7 separate regions of the Homo sapiens genome follow, and all the other regions are reported to be linked to region 3. The links are microRNA targets in miRTarBase. Many come from high-throughput screens and were not tested one by one. Region 3 holds a microRNA gene; each other region holds the end of a gene's coding sequence.
The links. The annotated mature microRNA hsa-miR-512-5p reads CACUCAGCCUUGAGGGCACUUUC and lies in region 3 at 1,935-1,957, shown strand. An mRNA with a match to its seed (bases 2 to 7 or 8) in the 3' UTR can be bound and repressed. Matches are read on the target gene's strand: a 7mer-m8 pairs with bases 2 to 8, a 7mer-A1 pairs with bases 2 to 7 and ends in A, and an 8mer does both.

Region 1 (3,548 bases), not on the chromosome of region 3:
CGAAATGATCGATTCAAACGCTTCTCCTTGAAGAGCGCAGCAGCAGCAGCATCGGGCGAGGAGCCCTCCAGATTGGAAGTGGTTTTTCTGACTCTTATTTTGGTTTTGTTTGCTTTCTGAAAGTTGTTACTGACCTGAAAGTGTAGCGTCGTGAACTGGGGAAGGAGAGAAGAGAGGCAGGATGAGAATCGTGGAGTGCGGAGGCAGGTAGCCCGTGGGGTGCCTCCTGTGCTCGGTGGAGCTGGAAGCCGCTTAGGTGCCAGAGCTTTTTCTGTGACCAAATTCTGGCTTTTGAAATAACCCAGTAACAGTTCTCTATCTTTTCATTCTGCCCGCTCCTCCCACAGCCTGGTCCCTCAGAGGAAAGGAAGGACAAGGAGTGCTTTGCAGCACGTGCCCCTGGCGGCGTCATGGTACTTTCCTGGCCCTGCTGCCCCTGCCCGTCCGTCTTTTATGATTTTTATTTACTCGTATTGGTTTTTTTAAATTTCTATTTTTTGCAGAACTGAGCCTTTTTCTGCCCTGCCTTTCTCCTGTTTGTCTTTCCTTTGTGGTTGATATTGTGTTGTCTTCTCCAAAGTATTTGTCATTAGAAACTTACAGCAAGCGTATACTTTTTAGCATGTCAGTATTTTTATTATGTTGCCCTCCTTGTCTTTGATAACTGCCTGTGGACGCTGTGTAAACTTTCTGGTAAAAATCCTTTTTTTTCCCCCTGTAGTCTCTCCATTTCAAGGACTAAAACAGTCTTGCGTTAAGTAAAAACCTGTGACCAGAGCTGAAGGAAGACTCTAGGACTGAAAACTGCAACAGAAATTAGCACAATTTGAAAACAAAACAAAATTGCAAAAGCCTTAGTTGCTTTTTCCACCTAAGAAGTTGATCAATGGAGAAAATGTCCACTGGAGTTTGAATAATGAACTTTGAGTTTGGGTGCAAGCAAATGACTCAGAGAAGGGTCCAGCTCTCAAGCTGAATGACAAACATGCTGTTGTAAATTTAGTCTCAGGTGTAAATACCCAAGCCCTCTGGTACCCAGGGAGCTGGCTGGTCTGTGGTGCATGTGTGTCCCTGTGATGGCAATCATTGTAGTTGCTGGCCTTCAGAAGAATTGAGGATCTGATGGAGGTTTTTTATGTATTTATTTTCTGTTCACCTTGTGACCCTGTGTCAAAATTTATAAAGATACAAAAGGCATTACTGAAATGGTACTTTCTGTAATTTGATACTATTTGGCTTAATCATCTTCACTTGACTATTTGTAATACTGTTGTAATGTTAACTCTGTTAAGTACCCAAGCTGCTTGTCTTCCACCAAAGAGTGCTTTATTAACAAGAATCTGTGAAAATCACATTTAAACACTGTTGCATGTTGTAAGACCAGGTGGTACCTTAGTAACCTAAAACTTGCAAGAGAATATTAATGGTAGCTTTAGAAGACTCAGGAGGAGAAACTGACTTCAGAGTTGGAAGATGTTGCAAGTCGTTCCTTTTTCTGTCCTTCAGGGACTGAAGAACTGGGAGGCTGCCCATTGTTTGGTTGCCAGTCATACAAATTAAAATCATATTTCCTTCCATGAATGGAAGAAACACACTATTGGTTTTTCCCCTTGGAAACAGCAATCCCAAATAATGTCGGCTTACAAAAAAAAAAAGTTACCACTTTTTTAGAGTCCTTCCCTGTAACATTGGATTTTTTTTTTCCCTTATGAGATCCACCTAAGGCCATTGACGTGGCCTGCGATCTCAGTGACAATGATCTGCTTCTGGATCTCACTGTTGCCTTTGGTTAGGGAACACAACTAGTAACTCTGCAGAGTGCCTTCTCCCGCAGCCCTACTGGAACACAGCAGAGTCTGTGCCATGAAGCAGTTACAGAAACAGAATTGATGTGCTGCTAAAAAAAAAAAAAAAAATGGGGCCCGAAATAAAAGAATATATAGTACTCACCTCAGTTCCTTCCATAAGAAGTGGGTGGTTTAATGATTGTTAAGCCATTTTTGCCTGTGCCGGGAGCATGGAGGGCTGAGATGTCGACAGGCAGTGGGAAACAAATGCCCTCCTAAGCCACAAGGCGTGCGCCAGATTAGTAGGCAACTCCATTTTAAGAAGCTGCCTTTTTCACAAAACTGGAAGAAATAAAAGCGGTTGGAATAAACAAGTTAAAAGTCTTTAATGCAAAAAGTAATTGAAAGGCAGTGCCTCCATTTTGGTGTACTTTCTTGGAAGAAAGTATAAAATTGACCGGCATCATGAGAGACGGAAGATGCCGTGTTCTCAGCCAAACAAGCAACTCTTTCCCCGCCAGGCACTGTCGGGTGGGGTCAGGCCAGCTTTTAAACACTGGGGACTGGATCACAGAAAAACAGTGGTTTTCTGTCCCTGGAAATGAATAGGCACAAAGACCCACTTGGCTGTGGGCAGACTACTCTTCAATAAGATTTGGGTGGGAGGAGGAACATTCCTTTTGCTATTTTGAGCTGAGACAATATAAATATTCAAACTGTGCCATGCATAAAGCATTGAATTCTCAGGGCACCTCTTCTTCCCCTTACCCCTTTTAAGGCCATCCCCTCCATTAATAATAATCCAGGTAGTTGTGAAAATCGTGCTTCTATCTGATCCCTTCTTAGTTTGGCTTTTCATCCCATCAGAACAAGTAAACGTAGGCGCCACAGCTCTTGTGAGTACTGTCTCCCTCACGGTGAATGAGCCTCCTGGTGTTTCGTCCAAGAAAAGAAAGGGTGTCACTGGAACCACAGCCCTTTTTCATTTTATAAACTGCCTCTTCATGTTGCCTGCTCAAGTTTCCACCTAGAATTGCTATCACTGTGGCTCTTTCTAAAAATCTTTCTATTTAACTGGTTCACTGAAATTAGTCATAGAAAACTTGTGATTTGGTGAAGAGGCATTCCTTGTAATAACCAAATGACTTGGGATGGTGTGCATAGCAAGGGCAGTGTTACACTTATGAGGACTGTCTCTAGCATCCAGGAAGTCTCTGGGTCTGAGGGATGGAAAGTTCTTCCTGCTATGAATGAGAGTGGACTCTTCCCCTCACCCCCAACTGAAACCACAAACAACCAGAATCTTCTGGAATTCTGACTTAGAGTCGTTGTTATAGAAGACCTTGTTGCTATGGAACATGAAACTGTGTGTCAGATGGAGAGATCCCCTTAACCTAAGAGCCTTAAATAGCCCTGAAAGTACACTGGGACGGTTTGCGATGGAATTAAAATTGGAAGTGAATATTTTTAGGTGCTCTTGAAGCTTTCTGGGGACTCAAAATTATCAAAAGTCAGGGACAGTCCGGAGGAAGAGCGTCTGCAAAACTGGGTTCCTAGAAGTATAGACGGACTTAGCTTTTTGTAGAATTTGGTGAGGAGCAGCGCCTCGTGAGAGCAGAATGGCCTGGCGTGGCCAGTGCTTCCCGGCAGCACGCAGCTCTGCGGCCTCCAGAATTCCCCTGTTCTGAGCTTGATGCCCCTAGCCTGTCCCCTACCTACTTCCTCCCCTCCTCTCTAGCCCTCTCACAGGGGTGATTGCTA
Region 2 (3,000 bases), not on the chromosome of region 3:
CCAGTTCACTGACATGCAGCGGGTGGGCCAGCCCCAGCAGACTGTGCTCCAGCCCTGGCATGGGCTATGCACTTTCTTTTTCCAACTAGAATGTCAAGGATCTGCTCAGATCTTTTATGAAGCACCTTTATCCTTGGCTCCTAAGCACAATGAATCCCTGCCTCCTGTGCCTCCACTGTTCTTCCCTTCTAATTCTATGATGCCACCATGTAATATAGTGGTTTTCATGTTAGTCACTGAGCTTAAGGCGTCCATATGGTCTAGTGGGGTGAATAATATGTAATCTTATCTGTCAGCCTGTCATCCATCCATCCCTCCATCAACTTGGTTAGCATTTTGATACTGGTATGCCCAAGACTCCCTCTGATGCTAGTATTCGTGGATTCTGCATATTATCTAACTTCCGCGCAGAGACAAAAGTACACGTTACAGGCTAAGTACATGATACAGGCATCCAGAATCATTTATGTCTTGATGACTGCTAAATTTCCAGGGCTCAATAACTTAGTAGGTTTCAATAAATGTGTTGAATGAACAAATTAGTTAATTCCTAGAAATTGATGGAAGATTGACTTAGGTTATAGGTACAGTAAAAACAAATACCCCTGCCTCTAATTAAAAAAAATAAATTTACTTCTTCCAATTGCTACAGATAATTATCACTTATATATATTATGTACAATATTCTCTATTCCAAAATGTATTTCTGGAGAAACACAGATGAGCACACACTGGCAAGCATAGAGCAGTTAGGACCTAGCAGGAGTAGACCAGCAGTCCTGCAGGAATACAGCCCGAGCTTCTGTAGCCCGAGGCCCTTACTGCTATGACCCAGGCCACTCCCCTGTCTTGAGCAGGCCACACACCAGCAGCACCAGCTGGGTTGTTAATTGTTAACTTCCAGCTTTGCCACTTCCTTCCTTCTCCAATAGCTTCCAGTACTTGTCCTGATTTTTTCTTTTCATCTGCTTATGTTCATGACCCCATTTTCCCCTACATACCAATCTAACCACCCAAAGACATAAATAAGAGAATAACCTGGTGAAGTGATCTCCATTAGAACCAATACCACAAATATTTTCAAGTTTTCTTGAAAAAAAAAAAAAAAGACTATACTCTCAAGGATCATTTCTATAGTTTGTTACTAAAGAAGTTTCTCTGAATTTGTAGAGCACCGAAATTATTAAAAAAAAAAAATTAAATTCCCGGTAGGAGGAAAGTAGATACTAACTGTGATGTTACCCCTTGCTTATTTCTTTGAAATGAAATAAAACTGGCTTAAATGACAATACACACATCCATGTTTGCTTTAAAGTCTTTATTATCCCGAATATAAAAGACAGAGTCCTCTAGGATATAACAGAGTTCTTTACGTGGAAACATTATTTTTTTACAAGTGAAAAAATAAATACCTCTTGGAATAAAGGCTTATATGCTAATATGTGCCATAAAAAAGTAGAGTTTTAATATTTGACAAAATGTCTGTGCAAAGAAACAAATGCATAAACACATTACTGCTACATTAAGGCAATATGAAAAGTATACTCAGAAATCTCAGTAAAGTGACAGTGTAGGTTTCTAGCTTTACCTTAGCTAGTATTGCACCCGATAAGGTCATCTAGGTCTCCCGACATCCCAGAAAACCTGCTAGCTGACCAGCTTCCAAAATGCCCAAGTGGGAGTGGAAAACATGTTTAAGAAAACAGAAGCAAAAAGAACCAAAACCCCTTCGAAACATACAGAGGGGACAACCCAAAGTTAATACTTAAGCACTTACTTTAAAAAAACACAACAAAACTCCCCCCCCAAAAACAGAAAAGGACACCATATCTAAATACTTATGGTAAGGCTATAAAAGGCTTGAACAGTTCAAGCAAAGCAACACCAGTGGGTGAAGCTGGGATCGAGTGCTTGGGAGAAGTGATGAGTTAACTACCCTCAGTTGTACACCATGAGGCTCCATCTCTCACTCAGCAAGCTCCGCTTTCCCTTCCCAAGGAGAGTGCTCTCTGTTTTCAGTCTGAAATAAAATATTCCACCAGCTCAGAAGGCCCGGGGAGTACTTGACTACTCCACAGTAATCTTATAACAAGATTGGTAGTATTTTATAATCGAAAGGCTTGTGGGGTAGGGATAGGGGGAGCGTAAAGGAATAGGGAGCCACCCACATTGAGTGAGCTGCTTTTTACTAGCCACACTGGTTTAAATCTGACAACATTGTCAACTTTTTAAAAGTCACAGAATTGATTTGTAAACCTGTTTGCCTTCCAATCATTCTTGATCAAGTTATAAAGACAGAAATGACATTAAAACGACAACAATTTACAAAAGACTTTCCTATTAAAAATGGTTGGAGCTCCATGACCATACAAAAAGAATGAAATTCTTAAAAGTAATTCTTACAAAATCTGCTGCCAGTAGGAAACTTACCTCAGGATACATTAAGGAGACTTACAACATCATTTCCTAAAAGGTACCCAACTTTTTGGCTATGTTGCCACTTCACTGACATCAAAGACTTTACCTATTCCTTTACTAGATCATAAAAAAAATCAACATCCAAGGAATGTGTCTGCGTCCCAGAGCTCCTCCTGGTCCCATGACTGGAGTTGTTGATTCTACGCATGGATATGTTTTTGCAGTGAGGAGTAGCTGTGTTATTTTTCTTCCTTTTTTTTTTTTTTAACATCGCATGGCAGATGGGTGTTGGAATAATTACTTTCTCCACAATCTATCATTTTAATAGTTTATAATAGTGCAGTTCATGGAAACATGCCAAGTCCAACAAAAGCACAACAGATTAGATTACAGTCAGATTGAGAAGACTGGTGTGCGTTGGCAGATAGACGTGCTGGACATGCTCCACACGCGACCTGCAGACGGGACATGACTGGGAAAGAAAAGCCAACAGTCTCTGTTAGCATGCAAGCCTCGGTGGGGGGCCTGTGTCTCTGTGCACACCCCTGGTCTCTAGTGCATTTAATTTTCTAAATCAATTGT
Region 3 (3,548 bases):
ATTCCAGCCTGGGTGACAGAGTGAGACTACCTCTCAAAAAAAAAAAAAAGAAAAAGAAAAAGAAAAAGAAATGCATTTACAGAAGCTAGGAAAATCAAATTCAGGGAGGAGGCTGGAGGGCAAAGAGTGGGTGTGGCCAGACTTTAATCCATTCTCCATCTGTGGGGTGGTCCCTAGGGTATAAAAGAGCTCCAGGGCCCCTGCCCTGCCTTTCATCCTCAGGATGGGAAGTCCTCACAGAGTTCAGTAAGTATTGGCTTCCCATGGTGTTTCTGCACTTCCCCCGGGGTCATATGAGCCTCACATTTAGGTTGTAAGACTCCCCCTAAAATCTCCAACACTGAGTCCTCTCTATTTGTAGTCATGACTCCGACACCTTGATTCTCTGCCCCTAATACTCTTTTTTTTTTTTTGAGACGGAGTTTCACTCTTGTTGCCCAGGCTGCAGTGCAGTGGTGTGATCTTGGCTCACTGCAACCTCTGCCTCCCGGATTCAAGCAATTCTCCTGCCTCAGCCTCCCGAGTAGCTGGGATTACAGGCATGCACCACCATGCCCAGTTGATTGTTTTTGTATTTTTAGTAGAGGTGGGGTTTCACCATGTTGGCCAGGTCTCAGACTCCAAGCCTCGAGTCATCCGCCCTCTTCAGCCTCCCAAAGTGCTGGGTTTACAGGTGTGAGCCACCATTCCTGGACCGCATTATTGATTTTTTAAAATTTTTGGATTTTGTTCAATTAGTGATTGAGTCTCACTGTGTTGCCCAGATGGGCTTGTCTCCCAGGCTGGAGTGCAGTGGTGAGATCGTGACTCACAGTAGCCTCAACCTCCCTCACCCCAGCGTCCCGTGTAGTTGGGATGGCAGGCATACAGGACCATGCTTAGCTAATTTTTTTTTTTTTTTGTAGGGTTGGGGTCTCCCACCATTGTCTAGGCTGGTCATCAACACCTGGGCACAAACATCCTCTCACCCCGGCCTCTGAGCCACTGCACCCAGTAGGTTTTAGGTTCATTTTATTTTTTATTTAGGTGTCCACAAAGGCAGCTTTTTCCTTTTCTTTATTTTTTAAAGAGACAGGGTCTCACTCTGTTGCCCAGGGTGGAGTGCAGTGGCCAGATCTTGGCTCTCTGCAACCTCTGCCTTCCAGACTCAAGTGATCCACCTTCGTCTCCAGAGTAGCTGGGACTATAGGTGTGCACAAACACACCCAGCTGAGTTTTAAATCTTTTGTAGAGAAGGGGGCCTCAGTATGTTTCCCAGGCTGGTTTTGAAGTCCTGTGCTCAAGCAATCCTTCTGCCTTGGCTTCCCAAACTGCTAGGATTACAGGTGAGCCACCACACCGGGCCTGTCCACGTAATTTAAAAGGTGCTGGACGTGTGCGGTGGCTCACGTCTGTAATCCCAGCACTTTGGGAGGCTGAGGTGGGCGGATCACGAGGTCAGGAGTTCGAGACCAGCCTGGCCAATATGGTGAAACCCTGTCTCTACTAAAAATACAAAAATTAGCCAGGTGTGGTGGCAGGCGCCTGTAATCCCAGCTTCTCAGGAGGCTGAGGCAGGAGAATTGCTTGAACCCAGGAGGCGGAGGCTGCAGTGAGCTGATGATCGCTCCATGGCACTCCAGCCTGGGCAACAGAGCAAGACTAAGAAAAAAAAAGAAAGAAAAAGAAAAAGAAAACAAAGTAATGTAAAAGGTGTTATTCAGGCTGGGGACCCCCAAAGTGCTGGGATTACAGGCATGAGCCCCAGGGCAGGCCTAGGATTTGCATTACAAGGCTCTGCATTGTTCCTGAGAACTGGAGAGAGTGCTCAATCTACCTTTCGCTATTGAGCAACATTCAGAAGTCAGTTTTAAATCTCTTATCTTCTGCATAGAGGATGTGCCTGCAGTTTCCAGGTACTGGACAATACAGGGAGGGTACTTCTCAGTCTGTGGCACTCAGCCTTGAGGGCACTTTCTGGTGCCAGAATGAAAGTGCTGTCATAGCTGAGGTCCAATGACTGAGGCGAGCACCGAAGAAACACCATGGGGGGGAGGGGGGGCGGGGGGCTCCAGGAGCCACTGCAGGTAAAAGCTAAACCGTGGTGCTTGTTCTGCGCCATAAACTGGACTTCAGCCCAGCTTTAAGGAAATGACCACGGTCTCTGGGTTGTGAGGCTGGGTTCCGTAGCAGCTATAATGCTTGGATTCAGGGATAGCCTGGGTCACACCATTGCCAGAGAAGAGGCAACCAATCCAGACCCCAAAAGCGGGTTCTTGGATCTCTTGCTGGAAAGAATTTCGAGGCAAGTCACAACACAGCGAAAGAAGCAAGCTGAGGCCTGGGCTCAATCCTCCTGCTTCGTCCTCCCAAAGTGCTGGGATTACACGCATGATCCCCTGTGCCCTGCCAATATTTGGTAATTATAACTGGTGGTCAGCTTACAATGTGGCTATTTCCAGACCATAAGTACCAACTCTATAGGTGCCTTGTGAGTGAGTGCCTTGCTACTTCAAGCAGTTACTTTCGTGTGTTATTAAACCAGAGGCCTGCTAAGCCTCTGTGCCTAGTAAAGATTACAATTTGGAATGTCAGCCCCCAGCTGTCCTGTGTGATTGGCAGGTTAGGTCCTTGTTGAACCAGAAGCAACTGGCCAGTCGTACAGATGCAACTTTCGGACCAGTAGAAAATTTCTATGTCAACCTGGAGACATAGGGATTGTACCTTTCTGATACCCTATTAGTAAATAAATAGTATTTATTTATAAATTATGTATAATAGTATTTATCTGAATATATCCCAAGCAGCCCAAGTGTGTTCCAGACATAACATTTTTATTTACATTTAAATATCACTAAGATTAGAGATACACATCTAACTCAGGTTTTCAACTAGTCTTACCATTGAAAGAACTATTGTGGCAGGACGCAGTGGCGCACGCCTATTATCCTAGCACTTTGGGAGGCCGAGGAGGGCGGATCACAAGGCCAGGAGTTCGAGACCAGCCTGGCCAGCATGGTGAAACCCCATCTCTACTAAAAATACAAAAAAATTAGCTGGGCATGATGGCACAGGCTTGCAGTCCCAGCTACTCGGTAGGCTGAGGCAGGAGAACTGCTTGAACCCGGCAGACGGAGGTTGCAGTGAGCCGAGATCGCGCCACCGAACTCCAGTCTGGGCAACAGAGCAAGACGCTTGTCTTAAAAAAGAGAGAGAAAGAACTACTTGTTCTCTGTAAGCCATGCTGGTTTAGCCAAAATGCTGCAGTTGTGTATGGCCAGGGACGTTGAGGCTGCAGTGAGCCGACGGCTGTGTTGCCGCTCTGCAGTCTGGGGGACAGAGCAAGAACCTGTCTCAAAAAAACAAGAAGTTAGTGAGACAGACATGCCGTTCTGTTACTTTTCCCCTTGCTGGTTCAAAGCTAGGTAGTTGCCAATTAAATGTAATCTTGTAGAGCAAAAATGTTTTTCATTTTTTGAGACAGGATCTCACTCTATTGCCCAGCCTGGAGTGCAGTTGTGGGAACTCACAGCAACCTCCACCTCCTGGGTTTAGGCAGTTCTTCTGCA
Region 4 (3,000 bases), not on the chromosome of region 3:
TTTCATTTCTAGTCATTAGACCAGATCTACTGCACTGTTAATTAATGTTCCTGATTTATATAGGTTTGTAACTATTTTTTTCAAACAGTTGATACTTGGATGGCTATTGATGTTCTCTCTTCTTTTCACAGAGCATGTCCTTTGCAACCTGATCACACAAATGATGAAAAAGAATAGAACTTTCTCATTCATCTTTGAATAACGTCTCCTTGTTTACCCTGGTATTCTAGAATGTAAATTTACATAAATGTGTTTGTTCCAATTAGCTTTGTTGAACAGGCATTTAATTAAAAAATTTAGGTTTAAATTTAGATGTTCAAAAGTAGTTGTGAAATTTGAGAATTTGTAAGACTAATTATGGTAACTTAGCTTAGTATTCAATATAATGCATTGTTTGGTTTCTTTTACCAAATTAAGTGTCTAGTTCTTGCTAAAATCAAGTCATTGCATTGTGTTCTAATTACAAGTATGTTGTATTTGAGATTTGCTTAGATTGTTGTACTGCTGCCATTTTTATTGGTGTTTGATTATTGGAATGGTGCCATATTGTCACTCCTTCTACTTGCTTTAAAAAGCAGAGTTAGATTTTTGCACATTAAAAAATTCAGTATTAATTAAACATTACTTATTCTACCCTCTTTTTTGGCAAGGAGGACAAATACGCAATGTTGGAAAACCTTGGATGGATATCTTCTCTTTAAAAAAATGTAAAGATAATTTGGTCTTGAGGGTTTAAACGGTTGATAATGCCTCTACAACAACAAGAAAAAAGATAAAATACTAGGATAGAATCATGGTGGGCACAGTGGCTTCTCAGGAGGCTGAGGAGGGAGGTTTGCTTGAGTCCAGGAGTTGGAGACCAGCCCAGGCAACATAGCGTAAACCCTATCTCTAAAACAATTTTTAGCCGGGTGCGGTGGCTCACGCCTGTAATCCCAGCACTCTGGGAGGCCGAGGCGGGTGGATCATGAGGTCAGGAGATCGAGACCATCCTGCCTAACAAGGTGAAACCCCGTCTCTACTAAAAATACAAAAAATTAGCCGGGCGCGGTGGCGGGCGCCTGTAGTCCCAGCTACTCGGGAGGCTGAGGCAGGAGAATGGCGTGAACCCGGGAAGTGGAGCTTGCAGTGAGCCGAGATTGCGCCACTGCAGTCGGCAGTCCGGCTTGGGCGACAGAGCGAGACTCCGTCTCAAAAAAAAAAAAAAAAAAAATTTTAAAAAAGGCTGAGTGCAGTGGCTCACACCTGTAATCCCAGCACTTTGGGAGGCCAAGGCAGGTGGATCACCTGAGATAGGAGTTCAAGACCAGCCTGGCCAGCATGGTGAAACTGTCACTACTAAAAATGAAAAAATGAGCCAGGCATGGTGGCACATGCCTGTAATCCCAGCTACTCAGGAGGCTGAGGCAGGAGAATCGCTTGAACCTGGGAGGTGGAGGTTGCAGTGAGCCCAGATTGTGCCACTGCACTCCAGCCTGAACAACAGAGTGAGACAATGTCTTAAAAAAAAAAAAAGAAAGAAAAGAAAAAAATATATATTTATATATGAACAATAAAAAATTAGCCTGGCATGGTGGCACACACAGTGGAACCAGATCCCATCTCTTAAAAGAAATTTTCCTAGGATTTGCATTTGATTCGCTATCATAAAATATAATTTTAAAGTTGGAAGTCAATATAACATGAAAGGCAAATCATGCCATAAACCCATAGGCATGGCAAAACTCCTAAGAGCTACTATGACATTTTTCAACATAACCAGAGGTATAATTGAAGAAGTGGGTATAATATTCCTCATCACCCTTTTTGCAGCAGCCTGTTGTCAAAAGTAATCATATTTTAGTAGGCATATTTTTCTGAAATACGTTTGTAATAAATGCATACTTATTTTTACAATACACTATCCATTTGTGTGCTTCCTAAAATTATGTCCTATTTTATTCTTTCCAAATACAAATCAGAGCATTGACCTGATTTTAACACCTTCCAAACTGTTTGAGTCCGAATGATTGTAGATTATATTTTTTGCTTTGTCTTTTAGAGGTGGATATTATTAAACAGTATGTTATTGAATTGGGAGCTGAGTTCAAGTACTTATTTGATAATTAGGTTTATTTTTAAGGAGTAGTTTAAACAAAATATCTTGAAGTCAAGTTTTAATGGATCTGACACTTCATTTGCTATTTTTCTTTTCTTTTCTTTTTTAGATGGAGTCTCGCTCTGTCACCCAGGCCAGAGTGCAGTGGCTTGACCTTGGCTCACAACAACTTCTGCCTCCCAGGTTCAAGCGATTCTCCTAACTCAGACTCCGGAGTAGCTGGGACTACAGGTGCTCGCCACCACGCCCAGCTAATTTTTGCATTTTTAGTAGAGGCAGGGTTTCACCATGTTGACCAGGTTGGTCTCCAACTCCCAACTCCTGACCTCAGGTGATCCGCCTGACTGGGCCTCCCAAAGTGCTGGGAATTTTTTTTTTTTTTTTTTTTTTTGAGACAGTCTCACTCTGTTGCCCAGGCTGGAGTGCAGTGGCGCAATCTTGGCTCACTGCAAGCTCCACCTCCCAGGTTCACACCATTCTCCTGCCTCAGCCTCCCTAGTAGCTGGGACTACAGGTGCCTGCCACCATGCCCTGCTAATTGTTTTTGTATTTTTAGTAGAGATGGGGTTTCACCCTGTTAGCCAGGATGATCTTGATCTCCTGACCTCGTGATCTGCCCGCGTCGGCCTCCCAAAATGCTGGGATTACAGGTGTGAGTCACTGCAGCCGGCCAAGATTCAAATTTTTTAGAAACAATTACATGCCTACATTCAACTTCAGTCTGGGAGCAGTGGCTCACGCCTATAATCCCAGCACTTTGGGAGGCCGAGGCAGGTGAATCACCTGAGGTCAGGAGTTCGAGACCAGCCTGGCCAACATGGTGAAACCCTGACTCTACTAAAAGTGCAAAAAAAGACTGGGCATGGTGGCTCACGCCTGTAATCCTAGCACTTTGGGAGGCC
Region 5 (3,460 bases), not on the chromosome of region 3:
GCAACAAGAGCGAAATTCCGTCTAAAAAAAAAAAAAGAAGAAATAAGATAAAAAATAAATTAGCCTGGCGTGATGGCACACACCTAGTGCTTGGCTGCTTGGGAAGCTGTGGTGCGAGGATCACCTGAGCCCAGGAATTCCAGGCTGCAGTGAGCTGATTGCGCCACTGTACTCCAGCCTGAGTGACAGTGAGACCCAAGAGCAGCAGCAGATTAGGCAACTTGGCAAAGCATTTCTTCTATACTGGTCCATCTTTGTCAAACACATGGCTTACTTATGAAGAAGACAGTATTAGAATTGAAATCAGTATTAAAATTAATTAAAAGACCAATCTTATAAATCAGAACCTAAAAACACTGGGACACAAACACAAATATTATCTTGAAATTTCTTCTTTATAACCACATTTTCCAAAGGAGGAAACATAAAATGTTCAGAGAAAAGGTTCAAATATCAGTTTAACAATGTGCTCTCTTTTCAGTATATACAGGTAAGTTTTTTTCTTTTCTTTTTTGAGATGGAGTTTCGCTCTTGTTGCCCAGTCTGGTGTGCAATGGCACCACTGGCTCACTGCAACTTCTGCCTCCCAGTTTCAAGCTATTCTCCTGCCTCAGCCTCCCAAGTAGCTGGGAATACAGGCATGTGCCACCACACCAGGCAAATTTTGTATTTTTAGTAGAGACTGGGTTGCTCCATGTTGGTTGGGCTGGTCTCGAACCCTCGACCTCAGGTGATCCGCCCACCTCGGCCTCCCAAAGTGCTGGGAATACAGCCATCAGCCACCGTGCCCAACCAGTTTTTTCTTTAATGATTGTATAGAGATAACAGTACTATAATAAATAAGTTAAATGTTAGAAACATCAACATAAACTAAACAAAGATAATTTCTGACCATCCATAACTTTTTCTAGTTGGCACTGTTTTGATTGCCCAAGAGTACTTAGTGGAAGGCTGCTTGCTGTTCCAACTAAAACAATATTTCAAGGATATGAAAAAGTGTGTAAATTGAGTTTCACTTAAATTATTTCACAATAAAAGTGATTCATAAAAGTTGATTAGTCCGGGCATGGTGGTTCACGCCTGTAATCCCAGCACTTTGGGAGGCAGAGGTGGGCAGATCCCTTGAGTCCAGGAGTTCTAGACCAGCCTGGGCAACGTGGTGAAACCATCTCTACAAATACAAAAAAATTAGCCAGGTGTGCTGGTGCATGCCTGTGGTCCCAGCTATTTGAGAGGGTGAGGTGGGAAGATCACCTAAGCCTGGGACTCGGAGGTTGCAGTGACAGTGAGCCGCGATCGTGCCACTGCACTCCAGCCTGGGTGACAGAGTGAAACCCTGTCTAAAAATAAAAATTTAAAAAAGAAAGAAAGAAAAAAAGGCTACGCACGGTGGCTCACGCCTGTAATCCCAGCACTTTGGGAGGCTGAGGCGGGCGGGTCACGAGGTCAGGAGTTCGAGACCAGCCTTACCAACATGGTGAAACCCCATCTCTACTAAAAATATAAAAATTAGTCGGGCGTGGTGGTGTGCACCTACAATCCCAGCTACTCAGGAGGCTGAAGCAGGACAATTGCTTGAACCTGGGAGGTGGAGGTTGCAGTGTGCCCAGATCGCACCATTGCACTCCAGCCTGGGCAACAGAGCAAGACTCCATCTGAAAAAAAAGTTGACCCTGGGAAAAAAAAAAAAATTGACCTGGCGTGGTGGCTCATGCCTGTAATCCCAGCACTTTGGGAAGCCAAGGTGGGTGAATCACCTGAGGTCAGGAGTTCGAGACCAGCCTGACCAACATGGTGAAACCCCATCTCCACTAAAAATACAAAATTAGCTGGGCGTGGTGGCACATGCCTGTAATTTCAGCTACTTGGGAGGCTGAGGCAGAAGAATTGCTTGAATCCGGGAGGGAGAGGTTGCAGTGAGCCAAGATTGTGCCACTGCACTCCGGCCTGGGCAACAAGAGTGAAACTCTGTCTCAAAAAAAAAAAAAAAAAGAAAAAAAAAGTTGATCTTCTCTCACCTTTTATCAGCTTAAAAAAAATCTAAAGGCTATTTATGTAACCCAGTTTGTCAATGGTTAGCTCTGTAATCTGAGGGCAAATACTTATCCTTAGATTTATCTCTGAAATAAATCACATAATTTGTAAAGTGACTTCCAACTCTAAAATTCCATGACTATTTGTATTTTACTAGGTACATGCTACTTGATTTCTTTGCATTGAAGCTATCTAAATCAGGAAGGATGCACAGCAAATAAAAATGCCTTAGTCCCACTGACGAGCAGAAAAGAAACACACACACATACATATTTTAGGAATATATATTTTTAAAAGGATTCAATAATCTTTTTAAAGCAAAATCAAAGTATGGCTACAGGAGGAGAGGAAATATCCAAATTGTAATCAATGCAGATTGTTTACTTAAGGCCTTATATTTGTACCTGTATAAATACCATATCACAGCACAAAAACATACCCCATCTGGCTCTCTTAAGGTACATGATAAATCAGACTAATGCACATTCATCAAAGTGGCATCATCTCAGGATATGTGCATATTTGACGTGGGTATGAATTCAGGGTTTCCTTGGGTCTCTTTCAAGGACTCTCCTTTCTCGTCGGTATTTCTATTTCCTTATTTTCCTTCTGTTTATGAAGAACTGTTATTTTTATATTTAATGCCCAATTTTCACTACTTGTTCATGTCAGTTCTCTGAAATGTTACTGCCTATGAACCGTGACATGTACTCTTTATAACAGAACCAGAAGTTAAAAGATGTAGACATCACACAAATCAATGATTATTTTAAAAATAGAAAACAATGATAAAAATTCAGTTGCCAACTTAGAGGATTTTATACATTATGAAGTGTTCTATTTTCCTTCCAGGGTCTGAAATTTATTTCTCAAGAAAACAGATTTTATTTCTAAGCCTTTACTATCTTTGCTAGAAACAGAAAAACCAGTTTTCTCTTTGACAAAATTGTCCCAGGAGAACAACACAAATGCTTTTTCCAAATTAGAGCATAAGTCTTCCTTAAATGTCCTAGTGTGACAATAAGGATACAACAGCCATCTTTTAAATGTCATGAAGGCTATTGTTAAGACGGTGTTTTTGGCCGTTTTGCAGATGGTCCATCGAAGTTAGTTCTGTTATCAATGTTATTTTCATCTTCTGCATCATCTTCATCATCACCTTTTAAAATAAATATTTGTTGTATGACAATACGTTCTATGGCTGAAAGAAATATATATAGCTAAAGTGGTTGATAATGAGACCATTTCACTTTAGGGATTAATAAAACCTGCACATTTTAGATTAAAATGATTTTGAGAATTTCAGTGTTTAAAATCTTTATTTTCTATCACTTTCCTCTTTGGAAATATTAGTTCATTCACCATAAAATCCACTCTTTTTTTCTTTTTTTTTGAGATAGTCTTGCTCTGTCGCCAGGCTGGAGTG
Region 6 (3,548 bases), not on the chromosome of region 3:
GTTAAATCACTTTTGATGGATTTAATTGAAACAGTGGTTCACAAGATGCTTTAAATGCTGCAGTCTGGGTTTAGGCTATATTTACCTGTCATTTTAATTCAGATGTTGGTGAGGATGGTAATAGATTCGTTTCAAAGATCTTTGGAAAGGTTATTTCAGTCTCTCCAGGTTAGACTTAGGGTGTCTGAATCCAGATGAGATTCTATGATTCAGTTCAGAGGACTCACACAAGGTCCAGATCTTTAACAGAGAAGAGCACTCTTTCATATTTCATTGCATCAAAAAATGCCATTGATTACAGGATGCATCCCAGTTTCAGGCATGTTAAACTATGAAAAAATGCGTTATAGAATTTATGAAATATTGGCAAGGTCTTATATGTTACACCTTTGTCATGTTTATATACCAGGGGTTTTCCAAATGAATTTCATATTCTGTTACTTCTTGCCCAACATGAGTTTTGTAATGTAACTTCACGTGGTTTCTTGGATTTTCTTGGTGTGTCAGTTACTCCAAGTGTAAAAAGTTTAATTTTTATTAGAGTTACTTACCTTGTAAAGCTGATATCTTTCTTGTTTTTCAGGCTGACACCAACAGAGATCGTATTGATATTGCCAATGCCAGAGCAAAGAAACTCATTGACAGCTAAAGCTACTGCTGTTCTTCTTTATCATTTATTCACTTCCGTAGCTCCTCCTTGAAAGTTATTACCTTTTCAGAGTTTAAGTTTTCGGTTCCACGCTCTTCTAATTGGGAGATAATATGGAAGAAGGGCCAGAGCAGTTACAGCCCTCCTTCTTTTTTGTTTTCTGTTGAGGGCCGACTGCTGCTCTGCCTTCCTTCTAGTATTTTCTTTCTCAATTCATACGCTTAGATTGGTTTTCATATGTCATGTTTAGTGTTTTCATCCTCCTCATATACTTCAGCAGGTTCTTTTGCTTTCAAGATTTGGAAGCATTGCCAAAGACAGCCATGAAGAAGGAAGCTGTAGAGGTGTTTTTTGTTGTTGTTTATTTTTGCTTTTGTGGTTGAGGGAAGGACAAGAGATAAGAGGTTGTTACCTCAGTAAAAACCTTCAGGCCACAAAGCAAAAAGTTGCATAGCCACAACGAAGATCTAGTTGGATATAGTTTTTGATTTAAGTTGCAGTTATAGCCAATTTAGGCTAATGCTTGGTTTTGGAGCTTTTATACACAACGTTTTTGTTAGGCATCACAGTTTTGCAACCTCTGCTCCAAAGAGAAAAATAGAATGAGTTTTCTTTCTTTTTTTTTTTTTTGGAGTCAGAGTCTCGCTCTCTTGTCCAGGCTGGAGTGCAATAGCGCGATCTGGGCTCACTGCAACCTCCGCCTCCCTGGTTCAAGCAATTCTCCTGCCTTGCCTCCTGAGTAGCTGGGATTACAGGCGTGTGTCACCACGCTCGGCTAATTTTTGTATTTTTAGTAGAGACAGGGTTTCACCATGTCAAGCTGGTCTTGGACTCCTGACGTCGTGATCCACCCGCCTTGGCCTCCCAAAGTACTGGGATTACAGGCGTGAGCCACTGTGCCTGGCTGAGTTTTCTTAAAGTGAGCTTAATTTCTGAACTCTTAGTGATTCATATATGTACATAAATCTGTGATCCCATTTCTTATTGCACCATTCAGGAACACTTTATATAAATGAGTGGCTTTTTATTTCATATTATTAGTAGTATCATGGTTCCATTACAGGCCTATTAACATCATACATTGTCATTAGTCTTTGAAGAAAAAATATGTAAATATATATGTGTAACATGAGAATTTCTCTCTAAAGCAGGGCTTAAAATTTTTTGGAAAAGTTTGACAAAGCATACCACATGAATTCAGATTTACCTCAATGCTAAGAATTATGTTTAGTTAGGAAAAAGGAAAGTCATTTTGACCTCAGGTAGAAAAATAGATTGCTTTGAGTTTTATGTAGCTTTAGACTTTAAAAAGTTAGAATTTATTCTGTAACTAAAAATTATTTGAAAAAATTATGCCTCTGGTTTAATTATTGGTGATTACACACTCTTTCTCTTACCCTTGTGTATTGAACTATGTCCATAATCAAGTTGATGTGGATCCTGAAAAGTGTTATGAACATCTGATTGGTATTTGTCACATTTATTTTAAAATTAGCATCTGAACACTTCAAAGCTGTCAGTGTGTATTGGTTTCACCAATAACCACTGCTTGATCCTTACAATTAAATTTTTTAACTAACTAATGGTATTGTTCTTTCAAATAGGTAACATGTTTCTATGACTGTTATTTGGGGGAAAATAGTTTCATCAGCTCTCATTTAACAAATTAATAAAGCAAAGATCCATACATCAAGAAACACTACAGCAGGAAGCTGCCTTTAGCATCTTTCCAGTATTTATTGAAAATATTGATGGGACTTAAACTTACCTTGCTAAAAATTTATTGTGAGGTTCATTTTAATCATTACTAGTCTTACTCACTTGAGCTTAAATACACTAGTGACTGGAAGGGTAATGGTTCTGTGTGAGAACTACAACTCACTGGAGAAGATACAGTTAATGTGGGAGCTTTCAAAGGCTAAAGAGGAAAATATTTAAATAAAGTGAGATGCAACTACACCCTCTGTAATAGAAATGCTCCATGTCAAAATGAGTGGTTTGGCAGGGATGGTAAATATGTAAAGTAAGGTGTAAAACGGAGGATTGTGCTTTACCTAAATGCCTTTCCTAAAACCATTTACCATAAAAAAAAATTTTAGCACTGTTCTGGATAAAGGAAATAGTTCTGAGAATACCAGCATGCTACACTCACAGTATGATTGGTTAGAAGCATGGGCTGAGGCATTATCTGAATTTTCACTCTAGCTGAAGTGACTGTAAGATCATTTCTGTGCCTTAATTTGTCTGTAAATGCAGATTAATACAAGCATACCTCAGATACTGAGGGTTCAGTTCTAGACCACTACCATAAAGCTAGTATTGCAATGAAGTGAGGCACATGAATTTTGGTTTCCCAGTGCATATAAAAGTTCTGTTTACACTATTCTGTAGTCTATTAAATGTGCAATAGCATTATGTCTTTAAAAAGCAATGTATATACCTTAATTTAAAATACTTTACCATGGGCCAGGCGCAGTGGCTCACGCCTGTAATCCTAGCACTTTGGGAGGCCAAGGCAGATGGATCACTTGAGGTCAGGAGTTTGAGACCAGCCTGGCCAACATGGTGAAACCACATCTGTACTAAACATACAGTTAGCTGGGTGTGGTGGCATGTGCCTGTAATTCCTCTACTGAAGTCTCTTTTTTGTTTGTTTTGTTTTGTTTTTTTGAGAAGGAGTCTTGCTCTGTCATCCAGGCTGGAGTGCAGTGGCGTGATCTGGGCTCACTGCAACCTCCACCTCTCGGGTTCAAGCGATTCTCCTGCCTCAGCCTCCTGAGTAGCTGGGATTACAGGCAGGCACCACCGTGCCCAGCTAATTTTTTTATCTTTAGTAGAGACAGGGTTTCACCACGTTGGTCAGGCTGGTCTCGAACTCCTGACCTTGTGATCTACCCGC
Region 7 (3,548 bases), not on the chromosome of region 3:
GAACAAGTTTCAGTATCAGATGTTCAAGAGGAAGTTGCTATTGCATTGATTTTAATATTTGTACATAAACACTGATTTTTTTGAGCATTATTTTGTATTTGTTGTACTTTAATACCTGGTGTACAGTTCCAGAAATAAAAATCTGGGAATCTTTTTTTCTTGGTTTGTGTGAATATTTGCCAAAAATACAGATATTTTATTTAATGAATCTTAAGCTACAGCAAATAGATAGATATTATACCACTGTTAAATTGGTTTTAGATGCAGTAAATAAGATATATGATAGATAGTGAAGTTGGTAGATTAAATATTTTCCTTAAATCCTCTATAATTTCCATCTATAATAAAAGTCCCCCTGTAATCCCAACACTTTGAGAGGCCGAGGCGGGCAGATCATGAGGTCAGGAGTTCAAGACCAGCCTGACCAACATAGTGAAACCCCGTCTCTACTAAAAATACAAAAATCAGCCGAGCGAGGTGGCGCATGCCTGTAACCCCAGCTACTCAGGAGGCTGAGGCAGGAAAATTGCTTGAACCCTGGGGGTGGTGGTTGCAGTGAGCTGAGATCCTGCCATTGCACTCCAGCCTGGACAACAGACTGAGACTCCATCTCAAAAAAAAAAAAAAAAAGAAGTCCCAAAGTAAGGATTATACTTTTAGTTTAATTCAGGAAACATTTATTATGTTTCAAACGCTGTTCTAGGTAACTGTCTTTTATGAAGACAGACAGATCTGAAATTTGGTCAAATATTATTATTATTTGACAGACTACATTTATGGTCAACTAGTCTTCCTTATCCATACGATTCATAGTTTGACCGTAGTCATATCTATCTTTCCTAAACATCTTTTTAAGCTAAAGCTCCTATCTTGCCATTATTTCACAAGTTTGTCCCCATATTTCATTTCCTCTGACCAGAGCTTTATGTAGTTCCATTTTTAAGATGCAGTGATCAGCTTGCCCATAATATCCAAAGTTTGTACAAGGCCAAGAAGGGGATAAAAGGAAAGCAAAAATCTTGACTCCTCTGCTTTGGTTACTTGACTAAAACCACATCCCTTCCTTGTCAGACACGAAAGGACCTTAGCACATAGGGCTCTGTGGTGGACACATGCACAGAAGTGCCTTCAGAGCAGGGACAAGCACACATATTCCGAATACAGCAAGAATGCAACAATGTGCCATGTGAGAGCTCAGAGTATTTTCAGGCTTTAGGAGACGGAAAAGCCTGTGGAAGCAGGATAATCTAGTACATCTGTTACTAGAAGTCATTTTGGCCATAATTTCCATCTATGGTACGCTTTTTGAGCTTGCTGGTGGTAAGTGCTAAAGAGAATGAGGAATATGTCAGGGTTGGGAGCAGTGAGGGATTGTAAATTTCAGTGGGGTGATGAGGCAACGCTCCTCACTGAGGTGACAGGAAGGGAGAGAACAAGCTATGTGGCTGTCTGGGGGAAGATGTTTACAGGCAGAGAGAACTAAGTGCAAAAGTCCTTGGTTGGGAATGTGCCTGGCAGGTTTGGGGAGTGGCCAGGAGGCAGGTGTGGGTTGGGATGGAGTGAGCAAGGGGAGAAAGGAGAGGAGCTCTTGAGGTCATGAGCAGGTTATGCATGTGAAGGACTTCAGCATTTACTCCATGATAGGGAGAGGGTTTTGAGCAGACGTATGTCAATACCTGACTTTCATTTAAAAGAATCACACTTGGTGATATGTTCTGTAAGGGGGACAGGAGTGGAAACAAGGAAGGCAATTGAGAGGCTACTGAAATTGCAATAAACTAGGTGAGTAAAGCTGGTGGTAAGGAAGTGAAGGTAATCAGAATCTGGTCATATAGGTTCCATGAATTTTTGAGGGATCCAGTAAAGAACACCCTCCTTCCTATCCAAGTTTGGAACTGAGAGAGCTGGAGTCAGGTCGATGGAGGTCAAAGTAACTATTGCTAATAAAACGGGAAGGTAGCTTCAGGGCTGCAGCCAGGTTGGCCTGCCAATATATTACACCTCTGGACTCACTCTGTCACTGGCTGGGCTGGCTACAGGCTATTCTCTGCACAAGGCAGAGAACTGCCAGGACACATTCTTTCTGCTGGCAGCCAGAGTCCACAGGGAAGGAACTAGAAGGGTATATAGGACATGGGTGCCTAGTTATTCTCCAAACATAATCAGGGAGTCAATCTCCCTCCAGTGGGTGGAGAGAGAGGCTAGGAACATTAACCAGTGGAAGCCCTCCACATGAAGACATGAGACACGGGGAATAAGTGTTCCTCCCACCAACACTATCTTGCACTTTTTTTCCACCTTTTCTTTGGTGTGAAAATGTTCAAAGAGTAAAGAAAATAGTAATAATGACCTCACATTTTCCCCTCAGCCAGCTAGAGCAATCTTTACATTATACATAGACACACCAATTTACTCATGGCAACACAATAGGTATTTTTTACTCAATTCTGTAAAAATAAAGTTTTTACAGAAGTTTGTACACATCAGCAGTACTACAAGAACTGCTGATGCCTGGCTACAATTTTATAAACCACCACAGAGCTTACAAAATAAACAAAAGAAAAATTGAAATTATAAGTTCAAAGAGTAGGTTTTAATTTAATAAGCTATTGTGTATTTAGGTGAAAACCAATTAAACTTGGAATTGCATTACAAATTTGAAATTGTAATGAAGCAAGTAGCTTTTATCATGAAATTGGAACATAAATATAATATCAACAAAAACATAAGAAATTCCTATTCCAATTAAGTCTCAAAATATTTGTTTTACAGGTAGAACTCAGAGAAGTGATTAACAAAAAACACTTAGAATTAATAGCTGAGTAGAAAACCTAATAATTTCTGATTCACAGAGTTAGCTGACAATTGTGTAGTAGTTTGAAAAAAGCTCTTCTCCTTGATTGATGTCCCTAAGTGCGACAAGAACAACACATCGAAGTGGGCTGAAAACAAAAAGATATACAAAAGGTAGAGCATTAACAAATATAAGCTCATATTTTTAATATAACCAAGATGGCTTTTATAGAGGTAACTTTACTCAGGTTCCTTCCATTTTAGTTTATGCATTTGATTTCCATGAGGAAATAGTTCTTATTCCTGATGCAGGTATTCTAAAGAGTATATCTATATCATTTAAAAAATCACAAATCAATGTTTATACAACTGACTACTTCTTCTGAAAACATTGTTTCTAAGTTTAGGCCCCCAAAACTAGTATCACAAAAAGGATTTTAAAATGACATTATAGTTTTTCTTGCATTCATTTGTATCTTATATCCTGAAAAATGAAAACATTACTTAAAATTAGTTGGAGTTTTAAAAAAATGCTTTTTTCTGGACATCATAAAATATTGTTTGTTTTTTTTGAGATGGAATCTCACTCTGTCACCCAGGCTGGTGTGCAGTGGTGTGACCTTGGCTCACTGCAACCTCTGCCTCCCGGGTTCAAGCGATTCTCCTGCCTCAGCCTCCTGAGTAGCTGGGATTACAGGTGCGTGCCACCACGCCTGACTAATTTTTGTATTTTTAGTAGAGATGAGGTTTCACCA

Region 1: miRTarBase lists CDC14B as a target of hsa-miR-512-5p. The part of its 3' UTR that is shown has no 7-base or 8-base seed match.
Region 2: miRTarBase lists MYLIP as a target of hsa-miR-512-5p. Seed matches in the 3' UTR shown: 7mer-m8 at 1,969-1,975 and 7mer-A1 at 1,543-1,549.
Region 4: the mRNA of PCLAF is a reported target of hsa-miR-512-5p. Seed matches in the 3' UTR shown: 7mer-m8 at 1,225-1,231.
Region 5: miRTarBase lists GON7 as a target of hsa-miR-512-5p. The part of its 3' UTR that is shown has no 7-base or 8-base seed match.
Region 6: the mRNA of SNAP23 is a reported target of hsa-miR-512-5p. Seed matches in the 3' UTR shown: 7mer-A1 at 1,385-1,391 and 7mer-m8 at 1,553-1,559.
Region 7: the mRNA of SETD9 is a reported target of hsa-miR-512-5p. The part of its 3' UTR that is shown has no 7-base or 8-base seed match.

Annotation. Positions count from the first base shown.
Region 1 is chr9:96,500,963-96,504,510 of GRCh38, reverse strand. It overlaps CDC14B (cell division cycle 14B), which reads left to right. Exons shown (of 14, transcript NM_033331.4): 14 at 722-3,548. The coding sequence ends at 758. Among named protein-coding and RNA genes, the nearest start is that of HABP4, 53 kb to the right of the region's middle.
Region 2 is chr6:16,146,552-16,149,551 of GRCh38, reverse strand. It overlaps MYLIP (myosin regulatory light chain interacting protein), which reads right to left. Exons shown (of 7, transcript NM_013262.4): 7 at 1,304-2,890. The coding sequence ends at 2,801. It also overlaps the pseudogene LOC124901514. Among named protein-coding and RNA genes, the nearest start is that of MIR4639, 6.5 kb to the right of the region's middle.
Region 3 is chr19:53,664,758-53,668,305 of GRCh38, forward strand. MIR512-1 (microRNA 512-1) reads left to right here and starts at 1,922; the gene lies at 1,922-2,005. All of the region lies in intron 2 of LOC107985342 (a long non-coding RNA gene), which reads left to right. RefSeq lists enhancers at 1-845, 846-1,733, 1,734-2,622, 3,511-3,548.
Region 4 is chr15:64,363,207-64,366,206 of GRCh38, reverse strand. It overlaps PCLAF (PCNA clamp associated factor), which reads left to right. Exons shown (of 4, transcript NM_014736.6): 4 at 132-1,903. The coding sequence ends at 177. Among named protein-coding and RNA genes, the nearest start is that of CSNK1G1, 8.5 kb to the right of the region's middle.
Region 5 is chr14:93,200,590-93,204,049 of GRCh38, forward strand. It overlaps GON7 (GON7 subunit of KEOPS complex), which reads right to left. Exons shown (of 2, transcript NM_032490.5): 2 at 2,305-3,193. The coding sequence ends at 3,099. Among named protein-coding and RNA genes, the nearest start is that of GON7, 4.7 kb to the right of the region's middle.
Region 6 is chr15:42,530,830-42,534,377 of GRCh38, forward strand. SNAP23 (synaptosome associated protein 23) reads left to right here. Exons shown (of 8, transcript NM_003825.4): 8 at 584-2,229. The coding sequence ends at 649. It also overlaps a transcript of LRRC57 not described here. Among named protein-coding and RNA genes, the nearest start is that of LRRC57, 16 kb to the right of the region's middle.
Region 7 is chr5:56,916,209-56,919,756 of GRCh38, reverse strand. It overlaps SETD9 (SET domain containing 9), which reads right to left. Exons shown (of 6, transcript NM_153706.4): 6 at 2,409-2,942. The coding sequence ends at 2,855. It overlaps MIER3 (MIER family member 3), which reads left to right. Exons shown (of 13, transcript NM_001297599.2): 13 at 1-154. Among named protein-coding and RNA genes, the nearest start is that of SETD9, 8.4 kb to the right of the region's middle.